Linked DNA regions of Homo sapiens. The protein of the gene in region 1 interacts with the protein of each later gene in a biochemical or structural test. Each region holds a gene or a part of one and is shown on either strand. Other genes may lie near its edges. The genes, in order: MXD1, RPS6KB1, SMC3 and AKT1.

The links.
Region 2: of the proteins of MXD1 (region 1) and RPS6KB1, one has a biochemical effect on the other in vitro, tested with the Homo sapiens proteins (one study listed by BioGRID).
Region 3: the proteins of MXD1 (region 1) and SMC3 form a complex in vitro, tested with the Homo sapiens proteins (one study listed by BioGRID).
Region 4: of the proteins of MXD1 (region 1) and AKT1, one has a biochemical effect on the other in vitro, tested with the Homo sapiens proteins (2 studies listed by BioGRID, with this or other methods).

Annotation. Positions count from the first base shown.
Region 1 is NC_000002.12:69,931,814-69,939,171, reverse strand, and holds part of MXD1 (max dimerization protein 1), read right to left. Parts: intron 6,456-7,358; exon of another isoform or gene 5,979-6,455; intron 3,822-5,978; coding exon 3,707-3,821; intron 1,938-3,706; coding exon 1,778-1,937; intron 1,076-1,777; coding exon 888-1,075; 3' UTR 1-887. UniProt on the Homo sapiens protein: Component of a transcriptional repressor complex together with MAX. In complex with MAX binds to the core DNA sequence 5'-CAC[GA]TG-3'. Antagonizes MYC transcriptional activity by competing with MYC for MAX binding.
Region 2 is NC_000017.11:59,944,882-59,951,193, forward strand, and holds the end of RPS6KB1 (ribosomal protein S6 kinase beta-1), read left to right. Parts: intron 1-524; coding exon 525-637; intron 638-1,669; coding exon 1,670-1,907; 3' UTR 1,908-2,705; coding exon of another isoform or gene 2,706-2,721; 3' UTR 2,722-5,693; downstream 5,694-6,312. UniProt on the Homo sapiens protein: Serine/threonine-protein kinase that acts downstream of mTOR signaling in response to growth factors and nutrients to promote cell proliferation, cell growth and cell cycle progression.
Region 3 is NC_000010.11:110,577,575-110,584,932, forward strand, and holds part of SMC3 (structural maintenance of chromosomes protein 3), read left to right. Parts: intron 1-260; coding exon 261-340; intron 341-1,053; coding exon 1,054-1,132; intron 1,133-3,329; coding exon 3,330-3,447; intron 3,448-4,348; coding exon 4,349-4,524; intron 4,525-4,987; coding exon 4,988-5,068; intron 5,069-5,809; coding exon 5,810-5,974; intron 5,975-6,266; coding exon 6,267-6,388; intron 6,389-6,608; coding exon 6,609-6,822; intron 6,823-7,358. UniProt on the Homo sapiens protein: Central component of cohesin, a complex required for chromosome cohesion during the cell cycle. The cohesin complex may form a large proteinaceous ring within which sister chromatids can be trapped.
Region 4 is NC_000014.9:104,768,796-104,772,053, reverse strand, and holds the end of AKT1 (RAC-alpha serine/threonine-protein kinase), read left to right. Parts: intron 1-1,206; coding exon 1,207-1,309; intron 1,310-1,633; coding exon 1,634-1,713; 3' UTR 1,714-2,705; downstream 2,706-3,258. UniProt on the Homo sapiens protein: AKT1 is one of 3 closely related serine/threonine-protein kinases (AKT1, AKT2 and AKT3) called the AKT kinase, and which regulate many processes including metabolism, proliferation, cell survival, growth and angiogenesis.

The DNA.
Region 1 (7,358 bases):
GACCAAATGTCACTATTTTGGGGGGGGAAAAAAGGATAATCACTGTGTTAAGTGGGAAATGGAGATCTCATTTATCTCTGAGGTAGGAAAAAAAAATGTTCCAGAGACAAGTAGCATTAACAAAGTTGGAGGGGAGAATGTGCCTCGAGATAGCAGAACACAGCGAGGTCCCAAGAACATCGCACAAAAATAGATTGTACCGTTTTGTTTGTGAGAACAAACAATTTGGAACTTTGATGAGCTGTGCAACCCCAGAGACACACTATCAAGGTGTCCATTTTAAAGTGAGAAATACTGCTCCCATCCACACGCGGCGCGTCGGGGGAATGAGCATGCGCGGTGTGAAGGGCGTGTTTTCTAGAGGTATTCCTGACTTCCTCACTGGTGGTGAGGTCCATGGTTAAGTGCTCTTAAATGCTGCTTTCAAAGCTTACTTTGGAGTTCTGAGATCAGGATCTCAATTTCAAAAGTTTGTTTCCTTCAGTTTCCTAAGTACAAGACACACTTGGACATTCCTCCTAGGCAAGTAACACAGTAAGCCAGAAAACTGGAAGAAAGGTCTGGGAGAGGACACGAGGAGAGCAAAGAGGGGGATTGCTGAGATGTGGACATTGCTTATTCGGTCTAAGAATTCTTGGATGCTTCAAATTGATTGGAATGTATAGTCTCTCAGAGACAAATTTTTATGGCGAGAAAAAGAGAAGCTAGTGGATGCAATCAGAAACCCACAATCCTAAGCACCTCCTTGAAAACAGTTACAAAGCTGATTTTGGTCAAGGTGGGACACTGAAGTTTACGTGCAAGGGAGTTGTGGGCAGGTCCAATACGTTACCTAATCAGAACCAACAGGGAGAACCTTCAAGGAGACAGCCGCAGTGCCCACTCTCTTAGAGACCAAGACACGCCTTGTGACTGTCCTGCAGCTTTATTCTCTTGATGCTGGTGCTGGAATAGCCCTCATCACTGCCGAGGCTCTGCATGCTGCCCCGCTCGTCAGAGTCGCTCACACTGCTGCTGCTCCAGTCCAGATCACCTGTGAGATAGTCCGTGCTCTCCACGTCAACGTCGATTTCTTCTGCAGGGAGGACAAGAGAGAAGGACATTGATGAAAGCGCTCTGCAGAAAGCTCAGGCGTGGTGGCTCATGCTTGTAATCCCAGCACTTTGGGAGGCAAAGGCGGGTGGATCACTTGAGGTTAGGAGTTTGAGACCAGCTGGGCCAACACAGTGAAACCCTGTTTCTACTAATACAAAAATTTGGCTGGGTGTGGTGGCTCACGCCTGTAATCCCAGCACTTTGGGAGGCCAAGGTGGGTGAATTACTTGAGGTCAGGAGTTCGAGACCAGCCTGGCCAATATGGTGAAACCTCATCTCTACAAAAATAGGAAAATTTGCCAGGCATTGTGGTGTGTGCCTGTAATCCCAGCTGCTTGGGAGGCTTAGGCAGGGGAATCGCTTGAACCCGGGAGGCGGAGGTTGCAGTGAGCCAAGATCACACCACTGCACTCCAGCCTGGGTGACAGAGCAAGATTCCGTCTCAAAACAAAACAAAACAAACTAGGCTGAAAACTGACACCAATCAAACTCTTCTGGGGTTGTCACCTAAGTGTTAGCAGGGAGAAGGAACCTGTCACTGGAGGTCACACTGTTCGACTTCTCTACATCATACCCAGTGTCTTAGTTCTTCTTACACTCTGCCTCCTGTCCGCAGTACTGAACCCCTGCTCTGGGGTTGGGGAGCACAAGGGAGACAGGGAGGAGAGTGAGAGAGGCTCACCCCTGTCGGAGTCGGAGCGCTCCGAGGAGACGGTGGAGCCGATGCTGTCCATCCGGATCCTCTCAATGCCCAGCTTCTCCAGCTGCCTCTTCAGGTGTCGCTGCTCTCGCTGAAGCTGGTCGATTTGGTGAACGGCTTTTCTGTCACAATCTTCAAGTTTCTGCAAGTCAAAGGGGTAGTTGTTGGGCCCCACAGGGAGATCTCTAAATGGGCAATGGCCCCCGCATCTTCCCTTCTAGCAGTGGAATGCGCCACACTTCCTCAGACGCCTTTCGGTGCCACTCATCAAGCTTCTCCCTGAGACAGGAAGTCGACTGGCCAGTGACTCCTGGCTTCGTCTGACTCTTCAGCATCGCCAGTGCTGGGGGTACTTGTCCTGTCACAGGGATTCTGGGGGTGAGCTCTCACATACTGGCACCCTGGTAGCCCTCAGTTTTAGTATCAGAAAGACTGCAGGCAGCAGTCCCCAACCTGATCTCCCTTGTTTGCAGCAATCCCCTGAACACCTGATCTCCGGACTAGAAAACTGCACTTGATGGGAGCTTAAGAAACACGCTTCCATTTAAAACTATGTTTATTCAAGTACATGTCCCAATTACATAAGCACTTTTTTGTGTCATGCCAAATCTCAATTAACTTCTGTTTGTTAGCAGGAAATAATAGTCCCTTTTGATGTCCTGATTCTAATTTGTCCAACAGAAGAGTTTAGAAAACACATTTCCATAGAATACTCATTTTTATAAATCTGCCCCCAGCTTCTCATATTCTTCAGATAATTAAGAAGATTGTTTAATTGTAGCTGTTTTGCTTTAAATAGAGGTTTTCTCCCAGAATTGTCATGAATGCAGGCTTCTAACCATAATTAAAGTAACATTTGTCCAACTATAATATGATTATACAAACATGCTAAACAGGGATTTTGGCTGTGGCTCTCAAGACTTTGAATCCAATTCCCCTTACCCTTTGCTATTCAGGTAGCAAAGAGAGTGTCAACTCTGTGCCCGATACCCTAGGAGGTGCTGGGGCTGTGAGGTGAGCACAAAGACCCAGTCCCCTCCCTCGTGGGGTGTATAGTCTAAGGATTGAGACAACACAATGGTCACACAAACCACTGTCAAATGTCAGTTATGACAGGGCTAAGAGATACCCAGTGATGGGACCACCTGTCACAGGAAGGAGGTCACTGAGTTGGGAAAGTCAGCGAAGGATTATCAGAGCTAGAGAGACTTGCACTGTGATCTGAAGAATAAGTAGAAGTCCTCTAGGTGAAGAAGAGAGAGGAAAGTGTACCAAGCAGAGGGAAGAGCATTGACAAAGGCCCTAAAGTAAGACAATATGACAGTGCCAGGGACTGGAAGAAGGGCTGGAGAAAGGGGAATTGGGGAACAAGATGGTGCTGCAGAGGCAAGTGAGGACCAGGCAAGGCAGAATCTGGGGCAGACCAGGTGACAGAGCTTGTCCTGAGCCACAGAAGAATTTTAAACAAGGTCACGTGTTGATTTGCACCTTGGAAGGACTGTTCTCAGGAAGCATGGAAAGCAGACGGGAGGGACCCAGAGGGATATAGGGAGACCTCTGAGGATTTTATTGCAGTAGACAGTGGGGATGAAGATGGAAGTAGACCGGTTGCAAAATATTTAGGCCTTGGAGATGGCCTAGATATATGGTTAAGGAGCAGGAGCTATCACGGACTCCTGAATTTCTGGCTTGTACAACTGGATGGAGAGTTGGATGGACCATTTAACCTCTGGTGCATGGGAGTGAGAAACACTCAGTTGGGTTTTGAATATGTTGCATTTGAGGTACCTGTGATTCATCCAATAGCTAGACTGGAGGAGTTCAGGGGAGAGGACTGTCCTGGAGATGTAACAACAGACAAACCCTCACTGAACAGGTAAAGATAAAGCAGCATCCCAACAATACACTTACCTTTATGTGCAATTTGGCTTTTGTTAATAAACTCAACGTAGTGTGTCGACTTGATTCGGGTCCAAGTGGCACCAGCCCCTTCAACTTCTCCAGGCACAAGCGAAGATGAGCCCGTCTATGAAAACAAGACCACAGTAGCATTTGAGAGTTTCACAGTGGGCCAGAAGCACCCCAGGCAGAATGAGTTCTCAAAGAGTGTGAAGTTGCCCAGGCCTTGCGATGGCAAATGCTACCAATGACCTTTTGCTGAATAAACATATTTTGAACCAGACAACTCTGGTGAAAACCAATGAGAAGCAAAATCCAAGGTTTTCGAAGCTAAGTCTATTGATAATACAAGTGCTGGGGTAGGGAATAATATCTGCTATTATATAGTCATTCACATGTGTAAATACTATATACAGTAATGGTCCCTGACTCATGATGGTTCAACTTACAATTTTTTAAATTTATAATGAGTTTATTGAAGTATTAAATGCATATTAGACTTGGGATGTTTTTTATTTATGATGGGCTTCTTGAGACATAACCCCATCATAAGTCAAGGAGCATATATATCTGTGGAGTTATTTGTTGAAGCTTTATTTGTAATAGCAAAGATTGAAACAACCCAAATGACCACCCAGGAGGGAACTGGTTAAATAAATTATGCTACATCCACACCGTGTAGTACTATGTAGCTATCAAAAAGAATGAGAATGTGCTTTATGTCCTATTAGGAAAGATTTTCCAGATATATTGTTAAGTGGAGAAAAGCAAGATTCCAAACTGTGAGTATACCATGCTATCTTAAAGATGGAGGAAAACAAGAATCTATATTCATGTTTTCTTGTATGTAGACAAACTCTGGAATGACACATAAGAAACTGGCTGGGCAGGGAGAAGGCAAGGAACAGTCAGACAGAGATAAGGAAGGAAGTGATGGGGGTTTTTACTGAGTCATTTTTTATACTTTTTGTTCTTGGAGTATGTCAGACTGATGCAATGGCACGGAGTGGGAGAGGGAGAAGGGCTGGATGAAGCAGCAGCCACGGCAACTGACTGAAGAGAGAGCACGAGAGTTGCTCCAACTGAGAAATTTACATTTCCTTGAAATGGTTTGTGCTTTATTCTAGAACCTGGAAAATTCTATGAATGTAAGAAGCAGCTGAGATTTGGGGGTTTTGCTTAAGCTTACCACCTCCTTAAAGCCTTCCCAAGCCATCCTAGCTCACAGTGATTCCTCTATTTTCTAAGCACCACTTAACTGTTTATATTATTCACTGGGAAGTTCACTGTACTGCCTGACTTGTTTCATATTTCTTACTTAACCATTCATTGCAGTCTCCTTAGAAAGTCAGGATTGCAGCTTAATCATTGCTGTGCTGTCACCGTGCCTCAAACACACACATGCTTAATAAGTGTTTGCTGAATGGATTATGTCATCTATTCAACTAGACTTTAAGCTTCTAGAGGACAGAGTCCATCTCTACTGCATCTTTGCACCTTCAGCAGTGCTCAGAGTCTTCAGGTTTTAGATAACATTCATTGCCCACACACAACCTACTTGGAGCAGAGTTCCCTGGGGTCTAGGAGGCTCCCCTCCAGCTGAATTGGGAAACAATGCAATGCCTTATAGGTTTGCCCTTTTTCCTCTTAAGAATTGTACTGTAATAGCAAAAGTTGAAAATATAGACCAAAGAAAGGAAATGGCTTCAGAAAGCTATAGGACAGGTGAATATGCATGATATTAATGTAAGAAGTCAATTCACACTCTCCAGGGAGACTTCAGGATGTTCCCCTAAGGCAGGGCTAGTAAGCAAGGCATTAGACTTCCTTCCTTCTGAGCCTCCTGCCTCTTCTAGGTCATGAGGAAGTTGTCCTAAACTCTCCAAGGGTGCTCTAAGGCTTGGCAAGCTTGGGGAGTACAGCATTCATTTCTGAGCTAGGAAGAGGTAATAGCACAAGGGCTTTACTATTTTGTAAGTCTTTCACTTCTTCTGAAAAACCTGTCCATGTGGCAGAGTCAGAGCAAAGACTCATGTTACAGGTGTGCTCCTCCCACTACTGCATGTGGTGGGGACCAGGGAAGGGAAGAAAACTTGTATGTAAAATATACTTGTTCATCTTGGATAATATTCTTCAAAAAGAGCCATGAAAATAGATCATGTTATTAGAAACACTATGAGAAAGTATAATTTATACATTTATAAATTTGTCTATTTCTTGCCATAAAACTTATAGACTAATTTTCTTTTTTTGTTTTTTTTTTTTTTTTTTTTTTTTGAGACAGAGTTCTTGCTCTTGTCGCCCAGGCTGGAGTACAGTGCCGTGATCTCAGCTCATGGCAACCTCTGCCTCCCAGGCTCAACAGATTCTCCTTCTTCAGCCTCCTGAGTATCTGGGATTACAGGCGCCCGCCACCACGTCCGGCTAATTTTTGTATTTTTAGCAGAGATGGGGTTTCACCATGTTGGCCAGGCTGGTCTCGAACTCCTGACCTCAAGCAATCTGCCTGCCTCAGCCTCCCAAAGTGCTGGGATTACAGGTATGAGCTAATTTTCCAATTAGAAGAAAAAGTTCAAAAATTAAAATTATATTTAGATATTTTTCAGCCAGCTTGTTATTTGCAAAGACTGCATGATTCAGAACAGTGTCATTTTAGTACTTTTATGATGTTGGTTTATATGCAGATATGAGTGTGTGAATTTTTTTAGGAAGTTTGTCCACTGATAAAAATATAATAAAGTCATCTTTTGATGCATTGTCATTTCTAGCCTTATAGGAGTCTTGCCCAGAAAGTGCAATTTTCACTACCCAAATGTGGGTTTCCAAAGAACACTCCTAGTCGTGAAACTAGAAATAAGCCATTTGACTAATTCCAGCTGAGACTAATACTTGTTCATTCAGTGTTTTCTGGCCTAGTTCTACAAAAATAGGACCAGAATTCTTTCTGGATTTTTGCAGAGACCCAAAGCCAACTCTGTCTTTGGCAGTGTCTGCCTTGGCCTTCTCCGGCGCCTCACTGCTGCAGCCTGATGGCTGCCCCCTGCCCACATGCCACTGCCTGCAGACATCCCCACACTGGTGCCCGGGCCAACCACAGGAGAGCAATGAAATATATTAAGTAGACTCAGTTCTATCATACAGTAGTGAAATCCAATCCCTGAACCAGATAAAAAAGCAAACAGACCCCTCTGTTATGTACAGCTCCTACCAAAGCTCTCCAACCCTGACACACACACACATACACAGACACACATACAGACACACAAACTCCTGGGATCTAGAATCCCTCTGCCAGCCCTGAGTACCCACGGAGCTCCCAGATCCAAAACAAGCAGAACAAACACCCGTCTCAGCTCTCTTTTCTCAGTTCTGACTACTCCTGTGCCCTGCTGTCCCATTTTAAACCAGGTCAAACTCCCATTTGGGGAACTAGCAGGGGTTTTGCCATATATCCTCAACAGGAAGCCACCCGACACCTCAGTGTGACCCAGGAAGTTGACTCTCCTCCCATCACATCTTCTTCAGTCTTCCCTCTGTTGCCAAGAGCTACCTCCCATCTTCCTGGCACCCGGCTGCCTCTTCCTTTAGCACTGATCCACACTGCTTTGTACCTAGGCCATGGACTAACAAACTTCACCTTCTGACTCTTCAGAAACATAACTTT
Region 2 (6,312 bases), on another chromosome or scaffold:
TCCACCTACCAGGTTCAAGTGATCCTCCTGCCTCAGCCTCCCGAGTAGCTGGGATTACAGGCGTGCACCACCATGCATGGTGGTGTATTTTTGTATTTTTAGTAGAGACGGTGTTTCACCACATTGGCCAGGCTGGTCTTTAACTCCTGACCTCAGGTGGTCTGCCCGCCTTGGCCTCCCAAAGTGCTGGGATGACAGGCGTGAGCCCCCGTGCCTGGGCGTATTTAACATCTTCATATGGAGCCTGAATTTTCCTGTTTTTTTTTCTATTCCTGTCAGTAGGGTAGAATTTTGTTTGCTAGCATATCAGGCTCAATGGAATTCTGCTTTCTTGAAGTGTGTGCCTCACGAAATGGCTGGAAAGAAGTTAACGGGTCTAAAAATGAGGTTGAGGACGTGGGAGAGTGTACACATTGGTGGTTTTAGGTGTGCATCATTGTGTAGGTATGTCAGACTGAACAACCCCATTCTCTTGAGATACATGACAAAATGCCATTCTGTAGTCCACTGTTACTGTCTTTCAGGGTTTTACATATGTGGCTCCATCTGTACTTGAAAGTGTGAAAGAAAAGTTTTCCTTTGAACCAAAAATCCGATCACCTCGAAGATTTATTGGCAGCCCACGAACACCTGTCAGGTATTTCACACTCTTATTTTCACTTTTTTTTGTTTTTAAACAACCTACAAGAGTGTTTGCTTAAGAAGTTTATGCCAAGTTATATAAATGAAAGACTGTCATACTCTCTTTGGTTGACATAAGCACAGCATCTATATCTTACATTGCAAAGGACTAGTCTGACTAATCTATGATGTTATATGGTTTACCTTCCCTCCCAAAAGTAAGCAGCCATACTGGCAAATGTCCTCTTTATCCATTCACTCAGCATTTATTGTGCACCAAGAGCACCAGCACTACATACTGCATGTTATGTGTGTGTATCTATATAGTACTATAATACAGGAATTGTCCCTGTCCTGATGAAGCTTACAATTTAGTGGGAAAGTCACAATAGACAAAGGATATACAAAAATATAATTACAAGTAGTGCAAAGTGCTATAATTTAAAAGGGGAAAAAAAGAATGTACTGGTAGAGAGCAGAGGAAAAACAAGGGGGCTTCTACTCACAGTGATCAGAGAAAGGCCTCCCTGGTGTAGTAACATCTAGCAGTGAACGGAAAGAGCCAGCCCTACAAAAATAGGAGGTATAAGAATGTTGCAGGCAGAAGAACAGCAAATGCAAAAACCCTGAGGGAGGAGAAAAGTTGCCCTTTTCCTGGAAGTGAAAGGGAAATCAGTGTTCCTGGAGTGTGTGGTGAGTGAGGAGAAGGGCAGAGGTTTGGAAAAGTATTTTATTTTAAATGCAATAGAAAGCTGTTTTGAGCAGGGGAGAGTAAAATGATATATATAATACGCATTTAAATGTATATATATCTCATTGAGGGTTTTGGGGGTCAGGTGTAGAGGTAAAGAGACCAGTTAGGAAATTCTAGCAGTTAATCTAGGTGGGGGAGAGATGGTTCAATTTTTGCCTTTGTGCTAATCCACGTGAAAATAAAATTAAATGAAAATAAATGTCATGTTACCCCACTCCCTTTAAACGTAAAGGAAATATGTCTTGTTGAGATGACCCTTAAGCAAATGAATGATAGCTCTTCCTTGTCTTAAAGCCCAGTCAAATTTTCTCCTGGGGATTTCTGGGGAAGAGGTGCTTCGGCCAGCACAGCAAATCCTCAGACACCTGTGGAATACCCAATGGAAACAAGTGGCATAGAGCAGATGGATGTGACAATGAGTGGGGAAGCATCGGCACCACTTCCAATACGACAGCCGAACTCTGGGCCATACAAAAAACAAGCTTTTCCCATGATCTCCAAACGGCCAGAGCACCTGCGTATGAATCTATGACAGAGCAATGCTTTTAATGAATTTAAGGCAAAAAAGGTGGAGAGGGAGATGTGTGAGCATCCTGCAAGGTGAAACGACTCAAAATGACAGTTTCAGAGAGTCAATGTCATTACATAGAACACTTCAGACACAGGAAAAATAAACGTGGATTTTAAAAAATCAATCAATGGTGCAAAAAAAAACTTAAAGCAAAATAGTATTGCTGAACTCTTAGGCACATCAATTAATTGATTCCTCGCGACATCTTCTCAACCTTATCAAGGATTTTCATGTTGATGACTCGAAACTGACAGTATTAAGGGTAGGATGTTGCTTCTGAATCACTGTTGAGTTCTGATTGTGTTGAAGAAGGGTTATCCTTTCATTAGGCAAAGTACAAAATTGCCTATAATACTTGCAACTAAGGACAAATTAGCATGCAAGCTTGGTCAAACTTTTTCCAGCAAAATGGAAGCAAAGACAAAAGAAACTTACCAATTGATGTTTTACGTGCAAACAACCTGAATCTTTTTTTTATATAAATATATATTTTTCAAATAGATTTTTGATTCAGCTCATTATGAAAAACATCCCAAACTTTAAAATGCGAAATTATTGGTTGGTGTGAAGAAAGCCAGACAACTTCTGTTTCTTCTCTTGGTGAAATAATAAAATGCAAATGAATCATTGTTAACCACAGCTGTGGCTCGTTTGAGGGATTGGGGTGGACCTGGGGTTTATTTTCAGTAACCCAGCTGCAATACCTGTCTGTAATATGAGAAAAAAAAAATGAATCTATTTAATCATTTCTACTTGCAGTACTGCTATGTGCTAAGCTTAACTGGAAGCCTTGGAATGGGCATAAGTTGTATGTCCTACATTTCATCATTGTCCCGGGCCTGCATTGCACTGGAAAAAAAAATCGCCACCTGTTCTTACACCAGTATTTGGTTCAAGACACCAAATGTCTTCAGCCCATGGCTGAAGAACAACAGAAGAGAGTCAGGATAAAAAATACATACTGTGGTCGGCAAGGTGAGGGAGATAGGGATATCCAGGGGAAGAGGGTGTTGCTGTGGCCCACTCTCTGTCTAATCTCTTTACAGCAAATTGGTAAGATTTTCAGTTTTACTTCTTTCTACTGTTTCTGCTGTCTACCTTCCTTATATTTTTTTCCTCAACAGTTTTAAAAAGAAAAAAAGGTCTATTTTTTTTTCTCCTATACTTGGGCTACATTTTTTGATTGTAAAAATATTTGATGGCCTTTTGATGAATGTCTTCCACAGTAAAGAAAACTTAGTGGCTTAATTTAGGAAACATGTTAACAGGACACTATGTTTTTGAAATTGTAACAAAATCTACATAAATGATTTACAGGTTAAAAGAATAAAAATAAAGGTAACTTTACCTTTCTTAAATATTTCCTGCCTTAAAGAGAGCATTTCCATGACTTTAGCTGGTGAAAGGGTTTAATATCTGCAGAGCTTTATAAAAATATATTTCAGTGCATACTGGTATAATAGATGATCATGCAGTTGCAGTTGAGTTGTATCACCTTTTTTGTTTGTCTTTTATAATGTCTTCAGTCTGAGTGTGCAAAGTCAATTTGTAATATTTTGCAACCCTAGGATTTTTTTAAATAGATGCTGCTTGCTATGTTTTCAAACCTTTTTGAGCCATAGGATCCAAGCCATAAAATTCTTTATGCATGTTGAATTCAGTCAGAAAAGAGCAAGGCTTTGCTTTTTGAAATTGCAACTCAAATGAGATGGGATGAAATCCTATGACAGTAAGCAAAAACAGAACCATGAAAAATGATTGGACATACACCTTTTCAATTGTGGCAATAATTGAAAGAATCGATAAAAGTTCATCTTTGGACAGAAAGCCTTTAAAAAAAAAATCACTCCCTCTTCCCCCTCCTCCCTTATTGCAGCAGCCTACTGAGAACTTTGACTGTTGCTGGTAAATTAGAAGCTACAATAATAATTAAGGGCAGAAATTATACTTAAAAAGTGCAGATCCTTGTTCTTTGACAATTTGTGATGTCTGAAAAAACAGAACCCGAAAAGCTATGGTGATATGTACAGGCATTATTTCAGACTGTAAATGGCTTGTGATACTCTTGATACTTGTTTTCAAATATGTTTACTAACTGTAGTGTTGACTGCCTGACCAAATTCCAGTGAAACTTATACACCAAAATATTCTTCCTAGGTCCTATTTGCTAGTAACATGAGCACTGTGATTGGCTGGCTATAACCACCCCAGTTAAACCATTTTCATAATTAGTAGTGCCAGCAATAGTGGCAAACACTGCAACTTTTCTGCATAAAAAGCATTAATTGCACAGCTACCATCCACACAAATACATAGTTTTTCTGACTTCACATTTATTAAGTGAAATTTATTTCCCATGCTGTGGAAAGTTTATTGAGAACTTGTTTCATAAATGGATATCCCTACTATGACTGTGAAAACATGTCAAGTGTCACATTAGTGTCACAGACAGAAAGCACACACCTATGCAATATGGCTTATCTATATTTATTTGTAAAAATCCAAGCATAGTTTAAAATATGATGTCGATATTACTAGTCTTGAGTTTCTAAGAGGGTTCTTTATGTTATACCAGGTAAGTGTATAAAAGAGATTAAGTGCTTTTTTTTCATCACTTGATTATTTTCTTTAAAATCAGCTATTACAGGATATTTTTTTATTTTATACATGCTGTTTTTTAATTAAAATATAATCACTGAAGTTTACTAATTTGATTTTATAAGGTTTGTAGCATTACAGAATAACTAAACTGGGATTTATAAACCAGCTGTGATTAACAATGTAAAGTATTAATTATTGAACTTTGAACCAGATTTTTAGGAAAATTATGTTCTTTTTCCCCCTTTATGGTCTTAACTAATTTGAATCCTTCAAGAAGGATTTTTCCATACTATTTTTTAAGATAGAAGATAATTTGTGGGCAGGGGTGGAGGATGCATGTATGATACTCCATAAATTCAACATTCTTTACTATAGGTAATGAATGATTATAAACAAGATGCATCTTAGATAGTATTAATATACTGAGCCTTGGATTATATATTTAATATAGGACCTATTTTGAATATTCAGTTAATCATATGGTTCCTAGCTTACAAGGGCTAGATCTAAGATTATTCCCATGAGAAATGTTGAATTTATGAAGAATAGATTTTAAGGCTTTGAAAATGGTTAATTTCTCAAAAACATCAATGTCCAAACATCTACCTTTTTTCATAGGAGTAGACACTAGCAAGCTGGACAAACTATCACAAAAGTATTTGTCACACATAACCTGTGGTCTGTTGCTGATTAATACAGTACTTTTTCTTGTGTGATTCTTAACATTATAGCACAAGTATTATCTCAGTGGATTATCCGGAATAACATCTGAAAGATGGGTTCATCTATGTTTGTGTTTGCTCTTTAAACTATTGTTTCTCCTATCCCAAGTTCGCTTTGCATCTATCAGTAAATAAAATTCTTCAGCTGCCTTATTAGGAGTGCTATGAGGGTAACACCTGTTCTGCTTTTCATCTTGTATTTAGTTGACTGTATTATTTGATTTCGGATTGAATGAATGTAAATAGAAATTAAATGCAAATTTGAATGAACATAAATAGAAGTGATTTATTTTTTTATTATCTTAAAGATAGGAAGGAATTAGTATACGTATCAGGTGTATAAATGGTTTAAATTTATTTTAACATGTCAGATGTGTTCAAGTTGTCATATAAATAAACTATGTATGTAAGGAATGGGTTAAAAGCTGTTCTGCTGAGAAACTGAAGCTATTTAAGTATATAACAAGTTTTAGTATTGATTTTTAAGTTAGATGTTACACATCTTTGATTTTCAAGTTATGTCAGATAGTAGATATGAATTGTTTACTTAAAAAAATACATGTAACAATCTACGTGAAAGCTAGCTTCATAAAAAACTCTAGGAAGACCTTCTTGTGCTAACAATCAACAATCTGTTCAGCTACACTTGGTCAGCTACATTTGATAATTTGATATGTATGCACAAAATAACGTAGTGAACAAATGTGTTTTAACTAATGTCTCAATATATCTAGTGTAAGCTGGGTATTTTGCATTAACCACTTCTTTTCTGTGAGGTAATTATACCACACTTGCCAAGGGGATTTCTCTACAGAAGCTCTCAAACTGATCTTACCTTGCTATACAACATAGTAGCCTATCAATACTGGTAAAACAATCTTTTAGAAGCCATGATCTGAATTCACAGAGTAAATGAGTTTCTGAATCTACATTACCTGTTTTTGAGGTGAAGGAATAGAGGGATGGAAGAAATGCTTCCAGTTCATCAGCATTTTTATTGGATGGCATAGCTCCATTAGATTTTCTCCCTTTTCAATTTATAG
Region 3 (7,358 bases), on another chromosome or scaffold:
TTTATAATTTGTTATAATTACAGTTTATATACTGATTTTATCTTAAAATGACAATGAATACTCTGTTAACAAATGGGAATGTACAAACTGTTGTGAAAAGTGTCTTGGTTAAGAGTATTGAGTATTTGTAGTATTATTTTTAGTGAGATAATTGAAATTTTAAAATAAATACTTATGGGCAAGGACTTTAAAATGACCTTATTTAAAAAGTTTTCTCCTTTACTATTAAATTAACTGTGGGCTTTTACATTTTTTCTTAGATCGATAAAGAGGAAGTTTCACTTCGAAGAGTTATTGGTGCCAAAAAGGATCAGTATTTCTTAGACAAGAAGATGGTCACGTAAGCATTTTTCTTTTTTTTAAAAAAACTGAATATGTACTTAAATAGAGATGGGGTATTGCTGTGTTGGCCAGGTTGGTCTCGAACTCTTGGCCTCAAATGATCCACCTCGGCTTCCTAAAGTGCTAGGATTACAGACATGAGCCACCACGCCCAGCCAGCATTTTTCTTTTTCTCAATACGGAGTCTTGCTCTGTCGCCCAGGCTGGAGTGCAGTGGCGCAGTCTCGGCTCACTGCAACCTCCACCTCCCGGGTTCAAGCTATTCTGCTGCCTCAGCCTTCTGAGTAGCTGGGATTGCAGGCAGTCACCACCACACCCGGCTACTTTTTGTATTCTTAGTAGAGACGGGGTTTCACCATGTTGGCAGGCTGGTCTCGAACTCTTGACCTTGTGATCTGCCTGCCTTGGCCTCCCAAAGTGCTGGGATTAGAGGCATGAGCCACTGCGCCCAGCCCGCAATTTTATGATTTCCTTACAAAAGAGTAAAAAGTATTCTTTTACCTGCTTCATATATGAGGAATATTTGCTTCATCTTCAACAAGTCAACATATAGAGGATAAACATAAGAATCAGAAAGTTCTGAGGATGATACAGATGGTTTAATTACTGATCTTTCCTCCCTAATGCTATCAACCAAGGGGCTACTCTACTCATTGCTTAATGGTGCTTTAAAATTATTTATCGGAAAGTAATTTCATTGTTTGTCAACAGGAAAAATGATGTGATGAACCTCCTTGAAAGCGCTGGTTTTTCTCGAAGCAATCCTTATTATATTGTTAAACAAGGAAAGGTAAAACAATTGTATGTCCTTTTTAAGTAGAATTTGTTTTCTGAGTAATTCTTGAGTGATGAATTTGGTTTATTGATTTGAGTGGTTAAGCTGAAGCAAAAATGGCCATATTCTTTTACATGGCCATAAAGTACCAAATAGGTCCATTGCATGTTGAGATGGAAGTATTTCAGCATATTAAGTGGATCTTGTTTTCCTAGTGACTGGTATTACTTACTGAGGTGAAAGTATGGGAAGACATTATTGGCTTATGAATGTTGCAATAATTAAGAATATTGTAGGAATTCTATAAAAATCACATTTGAAAAACTTTCTAAAATTAATATTTTGTGTTACCTAATTATTTATCACAATTAAAATACTGAAAAGCTAACATTACCAGAAATCTGCCATTTTGCCACATGTTATTTTCCCTAATAGGGATTATGTTTTTACATTTTTTCAGCAGCCAAACTACAAACTTTTTTAGCTGATTGTTCTGCTCTCTTCTCATATACTTTCACTTTTTTTTTGGACTAGGGAAAATTCTCAAAGAATATTCACTTATTTTATACTGTAGGCCTTTTTTTCTAGATATGTATTGGAAAGTTAGCATTTAGAAGAAGTGATTAGGAAGAATATGGAGTTTCAGTTTTAGAAAATGTGTTACTGGAAGAACACGTTTTTTTCCGATTTAACTATTTGTGGGAGATAAATTTTTTTAAATGGAGGCTGATTTGAAAGAGCACTTTTCTGAGATCCGTCTGCTGTCAATCTAGGCCCTTTTACTTCATTTCAGTTTCTGCCCGTATGCCATCCTTGATTGCCTCATCTGAAAGCATTGCCGTCCCCTCAACCCTATGTGCTTTATTTCCTTAATCTGTTTTATTTTTCTTCATAACACTTACACTGTTAGGATAGTACTTATTTTCTGTCTTTTTCCATTAGAATGTAAGCTCCATGAGGGTGGGACCTTTTCTGCTTTGTTTGCTCTTTTCCAGTGCCCAGCAGTGGCACATATGTTGTAGCCATTTGAAAAATAATTTTTAAGTGAGGAAATTGCATGAACCAATATGTATAATTGGAGCGTTCAATAATGAGGATCTGAAGGATGATTCTTTGATGTAGATACTTTTGATAGACCTATTTTCGTAGAGATAATTTCAATTTTTTAATGCAGTGATATCATTTTTGACATTTAGGGATACTTGTTATATATTAAGTTGCATGGCACTTAAGTTGTACCATTCTCTCTATATTTAAAGCATACCATTTTTGTCATATCATTAGCCTTCTGTATCTGTAGGTTCCACATCTGCAAGTTCAGCCAACCATGGATCAAAAATATTTAAAATAAATAAAATTTTAAAACAGTACAATAAGAAATAATACAAATTTAAAAATACAGTAAAACTATTTACATAGCATTTACATTGTATTATTATAATTAATCTAGATATTAAAGTATATGGAAGGATGTGCATAGGTTATATGCAAATACTATGCCATTTTATATAAGGGACTTGAGCATCCTTGGATTTTGGTACCTGCAGGGGGTCCTAGAACCAATCCCCATGGAAACTGAGGAAGAATTGACTTTTAATATATTATTGTAGCTTTAAAAAAAAGTGTAGTCAGTGATGGTTTTCCCTTATAAAAATACTTTGTTTTTTGAGAATGGAGCTCATCTTTTATACCTTATCATATTGACTAAGAAAAAGATGGTGGTGTGAGATACTCCTTCACTTGTTAGCCCTATTCATAAAGGAGAGTTATGACCGTAACAGTTGTATTTGGATTTTATTTGGTAAATTTCATTTAAGTAAAGGAGACATAGATATGTAGGCATGCGTACTATACAAATGACATTAGCCAAATCATAATCTGTTTAAAACTTGGCATGTCCCAAATTCAAAAGTCTGAAATACAGAATGCTCTACAATCTGAAACCTTTCGAGTGTGGACATGACATTCAAAGGAAATGCTTGTTGGAACATTTTGGATTTCAAATTTTTGGATTTGGGTTGCTCATCTGGTAAGTATAAATGCAAATATTCCAAAACTTGAAAAAATCTAAAATCTGTAACACTTCTGGTTTCTAACCATTTTGCATAAGGGATACCCAACCTTCATGTGTATTAAAAACCTTTCAACGTGGAGTTCTTCTTCTTAAACGGAGGCTACAGCTATGTAATGATTATTTTTCTAAAAATTTTAGATCAACCAGATGGCAACAGCACCAGATTCTCAGAGATTAAAGCTATTAAGAGAAGTAGCTGGTACTAGAGTGTATGACGAACGAAAGGAAGAAAGCATCTCCTTAATGAAAGAAACAGGTAAAATAAATGTGATTCTGCCTTATTTTTTTGTTGCAAATTACTGTTTTTGTGACAGAGTGGCTCCATGATGGGAATATAGTAGGTGTTTAGTATATGACAGCATTAGATAATGCTGTTATTAATAAAAATTGAGAATCCATAACACCAATGATGTTAGTAGCTTTTAAAAATATTGTGGAAACGCACACTGACTTTTTTTTTTTTTTTTTTTGAGATGGAGTCTTGCTCTGTCACCCAGGCTGGAGTGCAGTGGCGCGATCTCTGCTTATTGCAACCTCTGCCTCCCGGGTTCAAGTGATTCTCCTGCCTCAGCCTCCCTGAGTAGCTGGGATTACAGGTGCCCACCACCATACTCAGTTAATTTTTGTATTTTTAGTAGAGACAGGGTTTCACCATGTTGTCCAGGCTGATCTCGAACTCCTGACTTCAGATGATCCACCTGCCTTGGCCTCTCAAAGTGCTGGGATTACTCATGAGCCACTGCGCCTGGCCGGCACACTGACTTTTTAAAAGGAAGCTTAAACTGAGGCCCTTACTACATGTTATAAAAGAACCAGTGTCACCATGTGTAAATTTGTTCTCTGGTGCTTTTCATAATAAAGGATCTTAACCCATTTATGCCTAGCATTCCATTATTGGAATCCTAAGCTTGTGGATGTTACTTATATTCTACTGCTCAAGGTCATTGCCAAGGTCTGATTTTTCACAGAAAAAAATTTGCAACCTCTGGCATAAATGGGTTAATTGCTATTTTAGTATTTTAAATTGGGTTACCACATCACATCAAAGAAATAATGCTACAGTTCTTAAAAATAATTTAATTCAAGGTATATTTAAGAAGTGATATTACATAAAAATCTTATTCAATTCTTCCACCTCTCTCCCCATTTCTTTTAAGAGGGCAAACGGGAAAAAATCAATGAGTTGTTAAAATACATTGAAGAGAGATTACATACTCTAGAGGAAGAAAAGGAAGAACTAGCTCAGTATCAGAAGTGGGATAAAATGAGACGAGCCCTGGAATATACCATTTACAATCAGGAACTTAACGAGACTCGTGCCAAACTTGATGAGGTAAAATATTTACCTGTGACACTTAAAATCAGATTAATTTTGTTTTTATGAATTTGTTAAACTCAGGCCATAATTACACTTTTCAGTGATTTTAAATAGAAACTTAAAAAAAACCTCTCAATGAATTTATTAGTCAGCAAGTTTTTTTAGTTCAAGGAAATTAGCCATGTGGTCCTTGCTATATAGTATTATCTGAAATATAATCAGATGGTGGTATTAGGCAGACAAGATGAGAGGAAAGCCATTTTGAAGGCTTCTTGTAGTTGTAGTATATCCTAAACTACACATTTTGTACAAAAATTTAGTGCTTCAGTTTTCTAGTTTAAAATCATTTTTAAAATTTTTGTAGAAAATTTGAGCAGTTACTTTTGGTTTATTTTAATAGAAAAATTTTTATTAGATGTTATGAAATATTTAGTAATTACAAAATGAGTTAGATATGATAAGTTGTTTTTTTTCTTAGCTTTCTGCTAAGCGAGAGACTAGTGGAGAAAAATCCAGACAATTAAGAGATGCTCAGCAGGATGCAAGAGATAAAATGGAGGTAAGATTATAAACAAGGTTCATGTTAACTTACTTTTTACTTTTGAGACAGGGTCTTGTTCTGTCATCCAGGCTGGAGTACAGTGGTGCCATCATGGCTCATTGTAGCCTTGACTTCCTGGGCTCAGGCAATCCTCTTGCCGCAGCTTCCTGAATAGCTGGAGCACAGGTGTGTACCACCACACCTGTCTAGTTTTTAAATATATTGTAGAGACAAGGTCTTACCATGTTGCCCAGGCTGGTCACAAACTCCTGGGCTCAAGTGGTCCTTCTGCCTCAGCCTCCTGAAGTTTTTTTTTTTTTTTTGGAAGACAGGGTCTCACTCCATTGCACAGGCTGGAGTGCAGTGGTGAGATCACAGCTCACTGCAGCCTTGATCTCTCAAGCTCAAGTGATCCTCCCACCTCAGCCTCCTATTTTTGTTATTTTTTGAAGAGATGGAATCTCAGTATGTTGCCCAGGCTGGTTTTGAACTCCTGGGTTCAAGGAGTCCTCCCACCTGGGCCTCCCAAAGTGCTGAGTTTACAGGCATGAGCAACCATGTCCAGCCATCGTATGTTTTTGACCATAGTAAACCCTTTTGTACCAGAATTATGGAATGATTACACAAGGGAGAGTTAGAGGAATTGAATATTGAAAGGACAGAGTATTACTAAACATTAAGTGAAAGAGAATTAATGGTGTCACAATTCTGCTATTGTACTTCTAATTGCCTTATTTTCTGTTTAATACTTTTGAATAGGATATCGAACGCCAAGTTAGAGAATTGAAAACAAAAATTTCAGCTATGAAAGAAGAAAAAGAACAGCTTAGTGCTGAAAGACAAGAGCAGATTAAGCAGAGGACTAAGTTGGAGCTTAAAGCCAAGGATTTACAAGATGAACTAGCAGGCAATAGTGAACAAAGGGTAAGTTAAAATGCTAAAAATGAAAGATGTGAATGTTCAGGTGAGTAGCAACTGTAGAAGACAGCCCTTTCTGTGACTGGTGTGTGTTGGAATTTTTTTTTAAGCTTTGCTACGTTAGCATAATTTGTACTCAAGTAACAACTTGGTACTGTCCCTTTGTTTCTTACATTAAAAAAGAGTTTCATGTTACAGGTGGGTTTTCTCATGAAGTTTTTTTCCTGAGAAAACATTTATGCTAGACCTAAATTATGCAAAAAATTTAAAGCAGTTTGCATTTTTACTTTGTTTACAGAAACGTTTATTAAAAGAGAGGCAGAAGCTGCTTGAAAAAATAGAAGAAAAGCAGAAAGAACTGGCAGAAACAGAACCCAAATTCAACAGTGTGAAAGAGAAAGAAGAACGAGGAATTGCTAGGTCTGAGAACTTTCACCAACACTTTAACTTTCTACATCATATTATGTAAAACTAGGTTGTCCGAGGAGCTCAATTATATAGTAGCTGCTTTTTACACTTAATTCTTTTTGTATCTTTTTGAAAAATGGCTTTATGTTTCTGTGTGCAGTTGACATTATTGGTTGCAATTAAACTTGGTTATTATTCTCCTTTTCATCCCATTTGCTTCTATTTTGTGTAGATTGGCTCAAGCTACCCAGGAAAGAACGGATCTTTATGCAAAGCAGGGTCGAGGAAGCCAGTTTACATCAAAAGAAGAAAGGGATAAGTGGATTAAAAAGGAACTCAAGTCTTTAGATCAGGCTATTAATGACAAGAAAAGACAGATTGCTGCTATACATAAGGATTTGGAAGACACTGAAGCAAATAAAGAGAAAAATCTGGAGCAGTATAATGTAAGAACTTCTATAGCTGCTTTGTAAAAATCTTTCAGAAGAGATAAATGTGTTTAGTTTTATCTACTTCAAGTTTTCTTTTTAAATAAGTCTACATGTTGCTCTTAAAATATATGACAGATACTTATTTAGAAAAGGCCTGCACAGTTTAATATACATATAGTTCTTTTTTAAAGAATATTCATGTCATTGAGCCTTTATGTAGATTAAGTATATTAAAATGTATGTATGTATTTTTAATTTTTTTGAGATAGGGTCTTGTTCTGTCACCCAATCTGGAGTGCAGTGGTACAAACACAACTCACTGCAGCCTCCACCTTCCAGGCTCAGCGATCCTCCATCCTTAGCCTCCTAACTGGGACCACAGGCATGTATCACCAGGCCCAGCAAAATTTTTATTTATTTTTTTGTAGAGACGAGGTCTTGCCATGTAGCCTAGGCTGGTCTCGAAATCTTGGGCTTAAGCAATCCTCCGACCTTGGCCTCCCAAAGTGGTGGGATTAGAGGCATGAGCCACTGTGCCCAGCTTAAAATAT
Region 4 (3,258 bases), on another chromosome or scaffold:
CTTCCCTGACGCTGTGCAGTGAAGGCTGGCTGGTGGTGGACCAGGGGTGCTGCCCCTTGGCCTCCACGAGTTCCTCCTGTTTGACCTCAATCCCTTCTGCCGCAAGGAGAGCCCAGCCCTATTTCTGGCTGTGCAGGGACAGGGACAGCACCTACTTTTCTGGCACATGGGGGAGTCCGCCCTGGAGGGAGGCAGCTCTTTCTGCATGAGTCGCCATCCTGGGTGCTCATCTTTCAGGGACCCTAGGAGCCCTGGCCATCACCCCAGCTGATGGGGTCTGCCAGCTGGGTTCGGAAGCCTGCACTCTGAGATGCTGGGTGCCCTGTCACCAGGTGTGCTTCTGCCCCGTTCCCAGCCTGCCCCTCCCCTGAATGCCTGTCCTAGGCTGTGTGCAGCTGGTCGGGCTGGGCAGCCCTGGGACCCAGCTGGGCACCTGTTCTCCCATTAACACAGGGTGCCCTGGTCCTGGTCCCCGTTCCTGCCTTGAGGCCTGCCACCCTCCTGCCCTGCCCTCCAAGGGTATGGGGGGCCTGGGCAGTGCTCAACCTCTGCCCAGCCTTGACCAGAGACCTTGCTAATTGACAATGGACAATGCTGGTGCCCAGCCCAGACTCTGGGGTGGGGCAGTGCTTGAGGGGGTCCTTGACTGTGGGACCTGAGGGGCTCTCTGGCAGCTCCTCACGTGTGCACATCACCTTATAGTCACCCTTCATCCTGGGTCATTGAGAGTCCTGTCTGCAGCCAGATGCCAGCAGGCTGTGGTCCTGTAGTCCCTGAGCCATGGAGGCAGGGTGGGCTCATCCTGTGCACCTTGTTCCACAGTCTCCCTCTTTCCCAATTTACAAGAAGACCAATAAGAAAAATAAGAAAACAAGAAAGAAAAAGGAAAAATAAAGTTATCACCTCCTGGTAGCAGGGAGGGTCTCTCAGAGCTGGGCTGCACTACCTCCTGTCGCCTGCTGGGGCTGCTGTGAGGGCAGCTTTGCGTCTCAGCTGTTGAGGGTTGTCTCCGTGCTCCTGCACCCCTCATGTCCCTCCCTCCCAGAGCTGCCTCTGTGGGGGGCTGGTGGCTTGCTGCTCTCTGACATCAGTCCTGCCTGGAGACCCCTTGGAGATCCAGGTGCTTTGAAGGTCTTGAGCACACTTGAGGGTGTGCTGGGAGTGGGGAGCGAAGCTCATGACTGTCCCGTCTGCCCACCTCTGCAGCTCAGCCCACCCTTCAAGCCCCAGGTCACGTCGGAGACTGACACCAGGTATTTTGATGAGGAGTTCACGGCCCAGATGATCACCATCACACCACCTGACCAAGGTGAGGGGCCACTGCCTGCCCCCGCCCACTCCCTTTTCTCTCCACACTCAGAGAGGCCTGCAGTGTTCAGCTTTTTTGGCTTCAGATGTTTTAAAATCTAAATATTTAAAAAGGTTCCTTTTGGAGAGTGCCAATGATCAGGGTGGGAGGCAGTGCTCTGAGGGCCCAGGTCCCTGTGTCAATCTGTGGGGCCCTGTCTCAGTTTCCTGGCAGTATGGCAGCGTGCTGGCCGTGCTTTAAGAGGTTGGCTTCCTACTGGAGCTGTGGGTGGGTGGAGGTGGCAGGGAGGTGGGGCACCGGGGTCTGAGCTGTCTACACCCACAGATGACAGCATGGAGTGTGTGGACAGCGAGCGCAGGCCCCACTTCCCCCAGTTCTCCTACTCGGCCAGCGGCACGGCCTGAGGCGGCGGTGGACTGCGCTGGACGATAGCTTGGAGGGATGGAGAGGCGGCCTCGTGCCATGATCTGTATTTAATGGTTTTTATTTCTCGGGTGCATTTGAGAGAAGCCACGCTGTCCTCTCGAGCCCAGATGGAAAGACGTTTTTGTGCTGTGGGCAGCACCCTCCCCCGCAGCGGGGTAGGGAAGAAAACTATCCTGCGGGTTTTAATTTATTTCATCCAGTTTGTTCTCCGGGTGTGGCCTCAGCCCTCAGAACAATCCGATTCACGTAGGGAAATGTTAAGGACTTCTGCAGCTATGCGCAATGTGGCATTGGGGGGCCGGGCAGGTCCTGCCCATGTGTCCCCTCACTCTGTCAGCCAGCCGCCCTGGGCTGTCTGTCACCAGCTATCTGTCATCTCTCTGGGGCCCTGGGCCTCAGTTCAACCTGGTGGCACCAGATGCAACCTCACTATGGTATGCTGGCCAGCACCCTCTCCTGGGGGTGGCAGGCACACAGCAGCCCCCCAGCACTAAGGCCGTGTCTCTGAGGACGTCATCGGAGGCTGGGCCCCTGGGATGGGACCAGGGATGGGGGATGGGCCAGGGTTTACCCAGTGGGACAGAGGAGCAAGGTTTAAATTTGTTATTGTGTATTATGTTGTTCAAATGCATTTTGGGGGTTTTTAATCTTTGTGACAGGAAAGCCCTCCCCCTTCCCCTTCTGTGTCACAGTTCTTGGTGACTGTCCCACCGGGAGCCTCCCCCTCAGATGATCTCTCCACGGTAGCACTTGACCTTTTCGACGCTTAACCTTTCCGCTGTCGCCCCAGGCCCTCCCTGACTCCCTGTGGGGGTGGCCATCCCTGGGCCCCTCCACGCCTCCTGGCCAGACGCTGCCGCTGCCGCTGCACCACGGCGTTTTTTTACAACATTCAACTTTAGTATTTTTACTATTATAATATAATATGGAACCTTCCCTCCAAATTCTTCAATAAAAGTTGCTTTTCAAATTTTTGGCTCACTTTGCTGGGTGGAAGAGTGGGTGGCCAGGGAGGGAGTGGGGAGTCCTGGGAGGGAAGCAGCATCCTCAGAGCAGCTGGTCCTCCCCAGCTCCTCCTGGTGGGCACCGCCACCCCAACAGGTTTGGGGACAGGCTGTGTGGTGGGCCGAGGCGGGAGTATACAGGCCTGTTCCCAGGGGCAGCCTCCCATGGAAGGTGTTCCACCCCCATCTCCAGAGGCCTGGCCTGAGGGGAGATGGGAGGCCCTGGCTGGCCCTGCCCCCGTTGGGATCCACCTCTTCTTCCCTTGACCCCACCCAGCTTCACCCCAGCCATGAAGGAGACCATTGGACCACGTGGCCATCTGCCCCCCAGCCCCAGGTGCTGTTCCCCTGGGTAGGGCAGTGAATGAGACAGACCACCAGGAAGGACAGATAGGGCAGGGCCCAGAGTTGGGGCCAAGGTCATGGCCTGGGCCACGGTGGAAGTAAGGCTGGGAGGCCTGAGTGGCCTGTTCGAAGCTGGACAGAGCGGGAGGAGGGGCTGCAGGCGGTGGGAGGAGG